Linked DNA regions of Homo sapiens: region 2 is linked to region 1. A link means that fine-mapping ties the variant in region 1 to the expression of a gene that starts in the linked region. Tissue or cell type: whole blood. Region 1 holds a variant in brackets; the other region holds the start of a gene. All regions are shown on one strand. Distances are from middle to middle.

Evidence for each region. PIP is the estimated chance that this variant, and not a neighbour inherited with it, causes the effect.
Region 2: it holds the start of GPRC5B, and the variant in region 1 is fine-mapped to the expression of GPRC5B in whole blood (TOPMed, PIP 0.99).

What each region holds. Positions count from the first base shown.
Region 1 is chr16:19,801,871-19,807,147 of GRCh38, forward strand. All of the region lies in intron 7 of IQCK (IQ motif containing K), which reads left to right. Among named protein-coding and RNA genes, the nearest start is that of IQCK-AS1, 38 kb to the left of the region's middle. The variant G/A (reference allele first, on the strand shown) is at 3,149.
Region 2 is chr16:19,882,688-19,887,687 of GRCh38, forward strand. GPRC5B (G protein-coupled receptor class C group 5 member B) reads right to left here and starts at 2,161. Exons shown (of 4, transcript NM_016235.3): 1 at 2,040-2,161. RefSeq lists enhancers at 1-173, 174-904 and a silencer at 2,420-2,714.

The DNA of each region.
Region 1 (5,277 bases):
AGATAGAAAATAGATGATGAAAACAGCTCAGGATAAAAACCAAACACGTATGGAAAGGACCTTTAAACAATACAAATAAAAGGTTTTGTAGTTCCTCCCATATTTTTCTACAAAAAGCGGAAATTACAACTTAAGGCTCAGCACTGAGAGGGAGAGAGGTTTCTCCAAGTCGGGCAGCTGGCTGGGCTATTAAGCACGACAGGTTTTATTTTTTCTGAAAGGTCACTTGAAGTTCTCATTACTGGCCTTAACTTTCTTGTCTTCAATGTTGTGGCTGAAGACAAAGACTTATTTTTTTTTTCCAGGTAAAACATGCCCTATGGCAATTTGTTAATAATGTGGGCTCTAGCAGCAGACAGACCTGTTTGAATCCCAACGTGTCAGGTTATTAACCCATTTATGCCTGAGATTGTAATTTTTTGAATTTTTGCAACCAGACTTTGGTGACGACTTTGAGCAGTAGGATATAAATAACTCCCACGTGCTTAGCGTTCCAATAATGGAACACTAGGCATAAATGGGTTTTAATAACCATGGGCAGATTATGTAACTTCTGAGCCACAGTTTTCTGTTTGTAAAATGGGAGTAATAATTCCTGCCTATGAAGATCGAATCAGATGCTTCAGTCCACATAAGGAACATGGCACAGTGCCAAGGACATAGTAAATCCACAAGAAATATTGGCTGTTGTTGTTATTGTTGTTGCAGCTGTTGGCTCTATTTTCCTGAATAGGGGTTCTTTTTAAAAAGCCAACTAATGCCCTCCTTTAAGTTCTTCAAAGGCACAAAGCAGGCTCCCATCTCACCTTGGAAATCACTGATTTGTTTTCTGCTCCTATACTTTTGCCTTTTCCAGCATGTTACATAAATGGAGTCATACATCATGTAGCCTTCGAGTCTGGCTTCCTTCACTTGGCTCCATGCGTTTGCTGTTGTCCCACGTGTTTGGGTGTGTGCGTAGTCCCTTCCTTTTTATTGCTGAACAGTATTCCACTGTAGAACCCAGCAAGAGGAGAAACATGAAGGAAGGGGTTCTTAACTCTGCTGAGGAATAAACACATACGACTTTTACGTAAGACTCGTTTATTTGAACCTATGGATTGTGATGGTCTCGAGCTTCACTGTTCATCAAAGCCATCCACTGACAGATTTTGTTTTTAATTTCTGATACCTGGGGTCTTATTCCCCTGAGATTCTTGTTCAACTGGTCACAGTGAGAACAAGAGATAGGTTTGCTATTGTTGGCTTTTTTGTTTTGTTTTGTTTTGTTTGTTTGTTTTTTTGTTTTTTGAGACAGAGTCTCACTCTGTCACCCAGGCTGGAGTGCAGTGGAATGATTTCAGCTCACTGCAACCTCCACCTCCCAGGTTCAAGCAATTCTCCTGCCTCAGCCTCCGGAGTAGCTGGGATTACAGGCGCACGCCACTGCACCCGGCTAATTTTTGCATTTTTAGTAAAGACAGGGTCTCACCATGTTGGCCAAGCTGGTCTCAAACTCCTGCCCTCAAGTGATACGCCCACCTCAGCCTCCCGAGGTGCTGGAATTGCAGGTGTGAGCCACAGCATCCAGCCAGAGATGGGTATTGTTTAATAGCTCCCAGGTGACTCTAACATGCAGCCAGGATTGAGACCCACTGATGTATTGGAATTGACTTTGCTACCTACCAGTTTTATGATTCAGGAGAAATCACTGAATGATAAATCACAACTTTTTTTCTTTTTAGATGAAGAATAATAATAGCTGCCCAGTCTAGCTCACCAAGTTATCATGGAATTAAAATGTTTTATTTTTTATTTTCAGAGACAAGGTCTTAGTTTGCTGTACAGGCTGAAGTGCAGTGGTGCAATCATAGCTCACTACGGACTTGAACTCATGAGTTCAAACGATTCTCCCAGTTCAGCCTCCCAAGTAGATAGGGCTACAGTTGTACACCACCACAAACAGCTAATTTTTTTTGTAGAGATGGGGGTCTCACTATGTTGCCCAAGCTAGTCTCGAACTCCTGGCCTTAAGTGATTCTCTCACCTTGGCCCCCCAAAGTGCTGGGATGACAAATGTGGGCCACCGTGCCCAGTCTCTAAATGTAACAACACAGGAGATAGTGTTCTGTAAACTGTAGATGCAGAAATGAATGGTGTCAGTATGGAGGTGATTATATATCAGTGACTTTCCTATTTGAAAAGTACTGGAGGTTCTTTGCCAGGTGCGGCGGCTCACGCCTGTAATCCCAGCACTTTGGGAAGCCGAGGCAGGTGGATCACGAGATCAGGAGTTCCAGACCAGCTTGGCCAATATGGTGAAACCCTGTCTCTACTAAAAATACAAAAAAAAAATTAGCTGGGCATGGTAGTGGATGCCTGTACTTGGGAGGCTGAGGCAGGAGAATCACTTGAACCTGGGAGACAGAGGTTGCAGTGAGTTGAGATCACACCACTGCACTCCAGCCTGGGTGACAGAGGGAGACTTCATCTCAAAAAAAAAATAAAATAAAAAAGTACTTGAGGTTCTATTTCCTAAACAGAGGTAAAAGGTTTGTTGTGTGTATGTGTGTGTGTGGTGGTTTTTTTTGTTGTTGTTGTATTTTGAGACAGGGTCTCACTTTGTCACCTAGGCTGGAGTGCAGTGGTGCAATCTCACCCTACTGCAACCTCCACCTCCCAGGCTCAAACAGCCCTCCCAGTTCAGCCTCCCAAGTAGCTGGGACCACAGCTGTGAGCTACTACACCAGCTGATTTTTGTATTTTTTTAGAGACGAGTCTTGCCATGTTGCCTGGTCTGAAACTCCTGAGCTCAAGCGATCCACTCCCTCCGCCTCCCAAAGTGTTGGGATTACAGGTGTGAGCCACTGCACCTGGCCAGTATTTGTATTTAAAGAAAAACACAATACCAGTGTGGCTGATGGGCTGGCATTTAGCCAAACATTTCTCATTCACAATACTTTCAACCCAGGGTGAGCCCTGAGATGGCAGGACCAAAGAAACCTTTAGGAGTTGGTCTTGATTTGTATTATATTTCATCGTAAAGTTCCAACAATCGTTGTTTAAGCGCCAGATTCTTTTTTCCTTCTGCTTTCTCTTGAGTATGTGGCTTCCCCACATTGTTGGTCTGCTTTCCCCAGCTTCCTCTTCCTCCTTTCCAGAGAGGGGC[G/A]TCTCCTGCTGCAGCTGTTCCAGGAAGGGGGGTGGGGGTGCATTTCCTCCCTTTGTGTGAGCTCATTAGCCCTGTCTCTGGCTTTCCTCCGGGGACAGCCAGCCAACCAGGTGAGCCAGTGTCATTTAAAGGAGCACTTCCGTTCTCAGGCAGGGGTTGGTTGTCGTTTCTGGCTGACTTCAGATATGGCCCAGGTGAAGAGAGATGGCATCTGGCACAGAGAATGGCCAGCAGCTTGGTGTATGAGTCACATTTTCCTGGTAAATAGTATGCTGCCTAGATCTCCTGTGCAAGACAATTATTTTTTGATCCTTTGCAATTTGGGGTCTGATTTGAAGGCAATATAGCATCATAGTTAAGCAAGCAGGTGCTACAATGAGATGGATTCATTTGCTAATATTCACTCACTAGTAATTATTGAGTGCTTACAATGTGGCAGGCAGGCATTGTTCTGGATGCTAGGCAACCTGCAGGGAAGGAGACAAAGTCCCTGCCCTCATGGAGCTTGCATTCTTTCAGGAGACTGTAAACAGATACAAATAAATGCATAGTAACATAATGTCAAAGAGTGTGTCAGTTAGCTATTGTCACAATAATGCTGCATAACAAATCACCCCCAAACTCCAAAACTCAGCAGCTCACAATATACATTTACATCTTATAACCACACCATGGGTTCTTCCTGTGTGCTGTACAAACAAAAGCAATTCATAGAAACCAGGCATTGCAGTAAAGAAAGAGTTTAATTGACACGAGGCCAGCCATGCCACATGGGAGACAGAGTTATTACTCAAATCAATATCCCCAAAGGCTCGGAGGCTAGAGGTTTTTCAAAGATAGTTTGGTGGGGTGGGGGGGCTAGGGAATGGGTGCTGCTGATTGGTTGGGGATGAACTCATAGGGGTGTGGAAAGCAGTCCTCATGTGCTGAGTCTACTTCTGGGTGGGGAGCCACAGGACTGGTTGAGTCACAGCACAGGTCTGGGTGAGGCCATCCGGTAGTCAGAAATGCAAAAGCCTGAAAAGACATCTCGGCTACTATTTTAGATGGTGAATTTGGTCAAGGAAGGCCTCTCTGAGAAGGTGTTATTTGATCTGAGACCTGAATGAAGTTCATTCTAGGCAGAAGGAAAAGCACATGCAAAGGCCTGCAGGAGCAGGAGGGTGCTGGATGTATTGAGGACCAGCAAGAGAGTCAGTGTGTAAGTGAGCTGGAGCTGGGCATGGTGGTAGAGGCTAATGGAGGCTAAAGTGAGGGGATGGCTTGAGCCCAGGAGGTTGAGGCTACAGTGAGCTATGATTGCACCACTATACTCCAGCCTGGGTGACAGAGCGAGACTCTCTGTCTAAAAAATACATTATATATATATTAGAAAATAAAAGTGAGGCCAGGCTCAGTGGCTCACACCTGTAATTTCAGCACTTTGGGAGGCTGAGGCGGGCAAATCACTTGAGTACAGGAGTTTGAGACTAGCCTGGGCAACATGGTGAAATGAACTCACTACAAAAAATACAAAAAAAAAATAGCTGAGTGTGGTGGCACACACCTGTAGTCCTAGCTACTTGGGAACCCGAGGTGGAGGATGGCTTGAGCCCGGGAGGCAGAGCTTGCAGTGAGCTGAGATCATGCCACTGCATTCCAGCCTGGGTGACAGAGCAAGACCCTGTCTCAAACCACTCCCCACCCCCCCACCCCCCAAAAAAAGAAAAAATAAAGCAGTGAGCTAGAGGTGAATGGGAGAGGAGATGAGGAAGCAGTCAGGGGACAGATCTTGTAGAATCAAAGGTGAGCTTTCATTTGGATGCTGGAACTTTGGATTTTATTCTGACTGATAAGAAATGATGGGCAGAAGAATGACATGATCTGAGTTTTCATCAGGAAACTGTAGTCAGCATCCACAGTGACTCCCCAATAACCCCCACCCCCTGGGATTCCCATTACTGGGGAGTCTCTTCCCACATTGTATCAGGGTTAATATGTGTGGCAGTAGAATATGGCAGAAATAATGGTGTGCCACATCCAAGATTAGGTTATTAAAGACACAGCAGTCTTGTGCTCACTTGTTCTCTCCCTCTGGGATCATTCCCTCTGGAGGATGCCAGCTGGTCTTGATCATCCCTATGGGGGCA
Region 2 (5,000 bases), 81 kb after region 1:
GATCCCATGGCCTCCCACTCAAAACCCTCCAAGGGTTCACTGGTCCAAACAGAATAAACCCTAAACTCCTTTCCATGACCCAAAAGATCATGATCTGGCTGGTCCCTACCATTCCCCTATCCCCACCCCCAAATCTGCCTACAGCTCCAGCCACAATGGCCTTTGTTCAGTTCCTCTAAGCTCATTCCCACCTCCAAGCTTTTGCAGGCACAGTGCCTTCCTCCTGGTTCAGTCTTCCTCCAAGACCTCCCAGCGGAGGGCCCCTCTTCTAGCTGGGCTCCACTCAAATGTCACTCCCGGAACAGTCATCTCAGGTACATACACCCCTGTCACCTTCTTTTACATCACCCCATCTTATTTTCCTGGCCGTCCTCACCCCAATCGGATTTCATAGCCATTTGCTATGGGTTTGTTTAATGTTTGTCCACTCACTTCCCCAGCCCCGGGAGAGCAGGGGTTTTGTCCGTTTTATACAAGGCACCCAGTTCTGTCCCTGGCACGTTTCTTGAAATAACATATTAATCCAGTAAAGATTCTGAGTTTATCTTTCTAACAAAACTGCCTGTCTTGCTGCCTGTGCCCCCAAATGGCGGCTCCTTCCTCCTGGAATCTCCTTCCCTTCCCAACTCAGCTGACCCCTTTCCAGGCTTAGAGCAGGGAGCAGATAGCAAACTGTTCACTCCACAGTCTTAGATACCAAACTGGCCGGGAGGGCTTCCAAACGACAGATGCCAATTTGCATTCTATTTACATGTCATTTGCATGCAGTTTAACTCAAAGCCTGGATCCTCCGCAAGCCCGAGTCCCCACCGAAGAAACTTCTGAATTAAGAAGGTTCCTTGGCTGAAGTGCCGGGGTTTTTGTGCCAGATCCCTCCCCCACTTCTCTTGTCTTTGCGGGGTCCCCCAGGGCTTTCTGGGCTCTGTTCAGGTGCCCCCCGGCCTGGTGCAGTTGGGCGGCCAATGTGGCGCGTGGGCTGGGGCCCCAGGCGGGGACGCCGCTGCCCGCCACACTCCAGGGGCCTTTGTCCGCGCTCCAAGGAGCCGCCCCCTTAGCGAACGGGGGACGGAAAGGGAGGACTGGCTAGGCCTGGGTGTGACAGAGCAAGGACGGAGGAGTGAACCCGCTGCACGGGGGAGATTTCTGGGGCAAGGTCGTTGGCCCCTTCCCAGGCTGTTCAACCGGCTGCCCGGGGCCAAGGCGGGTGCGGGCTCCTCCCGCGCGCTCCCTTTTCGGCCTAAGCGCTAGGGACCCCGGGATGTGTGGGGTCCTTGTGGGGCTGGAAGCCTGTGTCCCCCAAGGAGAGGGGACCGAGAACAGGTCTAGTCCTTATCTCCAGCCTAGCCGCCTCTTCCAGAGGTCCAAGTGCCCCCTGTCTGGAAGGGAAACGCCACTGCCCCCCCCGCCATTGTATGCAGCCGCCCCCTCCTCCCCACCCCTCCCCGTCATTCGTCCCCAGCCCAGGTCTCAGCTCTGCCATCTCCCACCGCCGTGTCCCCCCCTCCCCTTGCTGAGTAATGCGCACTCAAGCCGGCTGCGGGCTTGACCCCCAGCCCCCGCGACAGGTGCGGCTGTTCACCCCCAAAGTCCAGCCCTTGTGCCCCCGGCTGCGTCTGCCCTGTCCACAGTCAGCCCCCAACGCGGCCCCAGGACCAGCCCGCAGCTCCTCACACATGACGAGTCACTAGGACACGGCTGGGCTCCTTTACCCTCCCAGCTGCCCTTCACCTGTGGTCGCCCCCACACCCTCCTGGGAGACTTGGATCTCTACCTGGTCCGGGCACAGTCTCCCTCCCCCCGTAAAGGTCCCCAGATCCTCCCCTCCCCCGCCCACCCCTCTACGGCTCTGCTCTCGTCGCACCGTGGTTCCCCTCGCCCAGATTCCACATCTCCCCCAGCAATAAACTCCCTGGCTTGGGTTGGGGGGGCGCTTAGAAAAACACAAGAAGCGGACCCCCCAATTCTCCCAAATCCACGGCGGGAAAAGTTTCTGGGGTCCCCACAGCGTCCTCCACTGCATCGGCGCAGCTCGCACTTACCGACCCCCGCGGCCCCGCAGCGCCGACGCTCCAGCTGGCCTTCGGCCCGAGTCACATCTCTGCGGCGCGGCCGCGGCCCCCGCTCCACGCACGCCCGCCTGCGGGTCCAGCTTCACTGCAGCGCCTGCCAGAGTCGCTGCCGCGCGAGGCGCCCCCTGGCCCGGCCCGCGCTGCTGCAGCGGCCGCGGCCCCGCCCCCGCCCCCGCCCCCGGCCGGCCCCGCCCCCGGGCCTCCGAGCCCCACCCCCGGTCCCGCCGGCGGTTCCGCGCGGGGCTAGGCGCCGTCTGCATGCACCCCCGGAGCCCAAGCTCGTAGCTTCTAGCCCGGATCTCAGAGACGATTCCCCCGACCTCGTGCCCCCAATTCGGGGACATTCCCCCCACAACGTCAGTGCGCCCGTAAGCAGTCCAGACGAGCCGGGCAACTCCCCAGGGTAGATCCATTTGCGGGAACACTCCCCTAGCCAATACACTTACCGAGGGAGGTATCGCGACCCAGGGGTCCCAGCGCGGAAGCCTTCCTGCCCCCAGGCCACGCTCCAAGGGGGGTTCATAAGCAGTAACTTCCCCGAAACACACCAGCACCAGGTCCAGGACGCAGAGAGGATCGATCCCGCCCGGTGCCTCTCGAAGTCACCAACGCCCCGGTATACACCTAGGCGCACACACACCGCTAGGCCTCCTCCAGGCAGGTTCCTCCTGGACACACTCTTCTCTCTCCTCACTGCCCAACTCCCAGATGTCGTTGTCCGTTTACGCACACTGGGACCAACACCCGCTTCCTTGGCCCCTCGAAACACACACGTCCAGTCGGTGCACCCCTCACGTGGGTCCCTACGCAGGATCGCCACCACCCCTACCGCACACATCACCCACGTACGCACATGTCCACTGCCCTTCAGGGCTCACACACTCAGCGGCCCGGGCCACTGGCCGTGCGCTCCGCAGACGGTCAGGGCACAGCCCGGACGCGTGTCCGCTGGGCGGCCGTGGGACCTGCTTGAAGGAGGGGTCCGGGGCAGCCGTCTCTGAGTCCCCCTCACCCCGTCCTAGTCCTCAGGCCTCTCCGAGGTCGCATTGCTTCGACCAGGCCTGGGAGCTGCGCTCCGGCACCCCATATGGGGCTGGTTCCCTGGGTGACCTTCAGACCATCAAACCCTGGCAGTCTCAGGTGGCCCCCCGCCAAAGCCAGAAACAGACCTTTGAGCAGCATCCCTTCCCTGCACTCCAGATTCTCAGGGTGAGATTTCCTTTCTCCCTCCGCGGTGCGCCCCCCAATCTCTACCCCCGTCGCCGCAACCATCCCAGCCACATAAGACCAAAAGGGATAGGACGGACCCCTGCTCCCCTCTCCCGGGGGCTGCAGGAAGGGGAGATGCAGAACACCTCCTTCTGGGAATAGTGGCAGCCCCTGATCTTTGGGGACCGTGGCCCTTCCAGATACTCCCATCCCTCCCTGCCAGCCTCCCAGTTCCGGTCCGGTTAGGCCACATCCCCCTTGGGCACGCATCTCTGGGATACCTTTTATTATATTCAAGGGAAAATGGAAAGGAAGAACCATAATGGCAGTTTTTCGCCCCACTCCTGGTTTATTTGCATGGATCCTCAGAGCCCAGAACAGTTCCAGGCACAGTAGGCGCTCATTAAATGTTTGCGGGACGACCCAAAGTGTGTTCCCGCCAGACTGCGCAATTGGAAAGTGGATGGGCACTGTCACCTGGTGGCAGCTCTTGGAACTGACGCCGAGATCCTTTTGTCAACGTGGGCAAGTTCACTTTCGTGAGCCACATGTCCTCAACGTCTGCAAAATGGAGATCTTTTTCATCGCACATGCCTATTGGGGTTGTTGTGAAGGTCTAACACGTGCTAACATATAAAGTGCTTCACGCAGGGTCTGGCATGTGGAAAATCCTTAATATGAGCTGATTAACATTGCAGTTACGGTTATATTCCCTTTCCCACTTGTTTTACAGAGGACCCTGACTGTGATGGTCAGTTTCACTTTGGGTGATGATACCACAGGGAGCACAGAGTGAAAATGAAGGAGGACATTGAGTGGCAGGTGCATTCCTTCCCTCCAAAAAGTTCAAACACCCATGGATGATAATAATAACAATAATAGCTGAGTACATAGTGCTTTCTGTGTGCCAGGAGCTATTCTAAGTGTTTTAAATTCTTTAATTCATTTAATCCTCCCAGTTACCCTTTAGGCCAGAGACTGTTATTCTCCCTGTTTTACAGATGGAGACACTGAGGCCAAGAGGGGTTAAGTACTGCCCCGGGGTTAGACGGTTGGCAAAGACAAAATCCAATCCAGGCCATCTGGCTCTGCAGGCCATATTATCCACCAATGGTTAGACTGGTGTCATTTGCTGTCAGGTCAGACATTGTCACAGAGGAACCTCACCTCCCAGGAGAGTTCACTGGGTCTCCAGCCTTGGAGAGAATGGCTCCAGGAGGTCCAGGGAGCCATGTCAGGCTCTCAAGTGCCCAGTTCACTTTGTCTAATGAAAACCAGTGGCTTCCCTGGCTCTATTCCTCACCTGAGAAATGGTCAGTGCACTGCCCATGGCTTCCCACTGACAAATGTCATGGTATGTGTATTAATTTCATACTGCTATGAAGAAATACCCAAGACTGGGTAATTTATAAAGAAAAAGAGATTTAATGGACTCAAAGCTCCACATGGCTGGGTAGGCCTCACAATCATGGTAGAAGGCAAAAGAGGAGCAAAGTCACGTCTTATATGGTGGCTATATGGTGGCAGGCAAGAGTGCATGTGCAGGGGAACTGCCCTTTATTAAACCATCAGATCTTGTGAGACTTATTCACTATCATGAGAACAGCATGGGAAAAACCCACCCCCATGATTCAATTACCTCCCTCCAGGTCCCTCCCATGACATGTAGGGATTATGGGAGCTACAATTCAAGATGAGATTTGGGTGGGGACACAGCCAAAC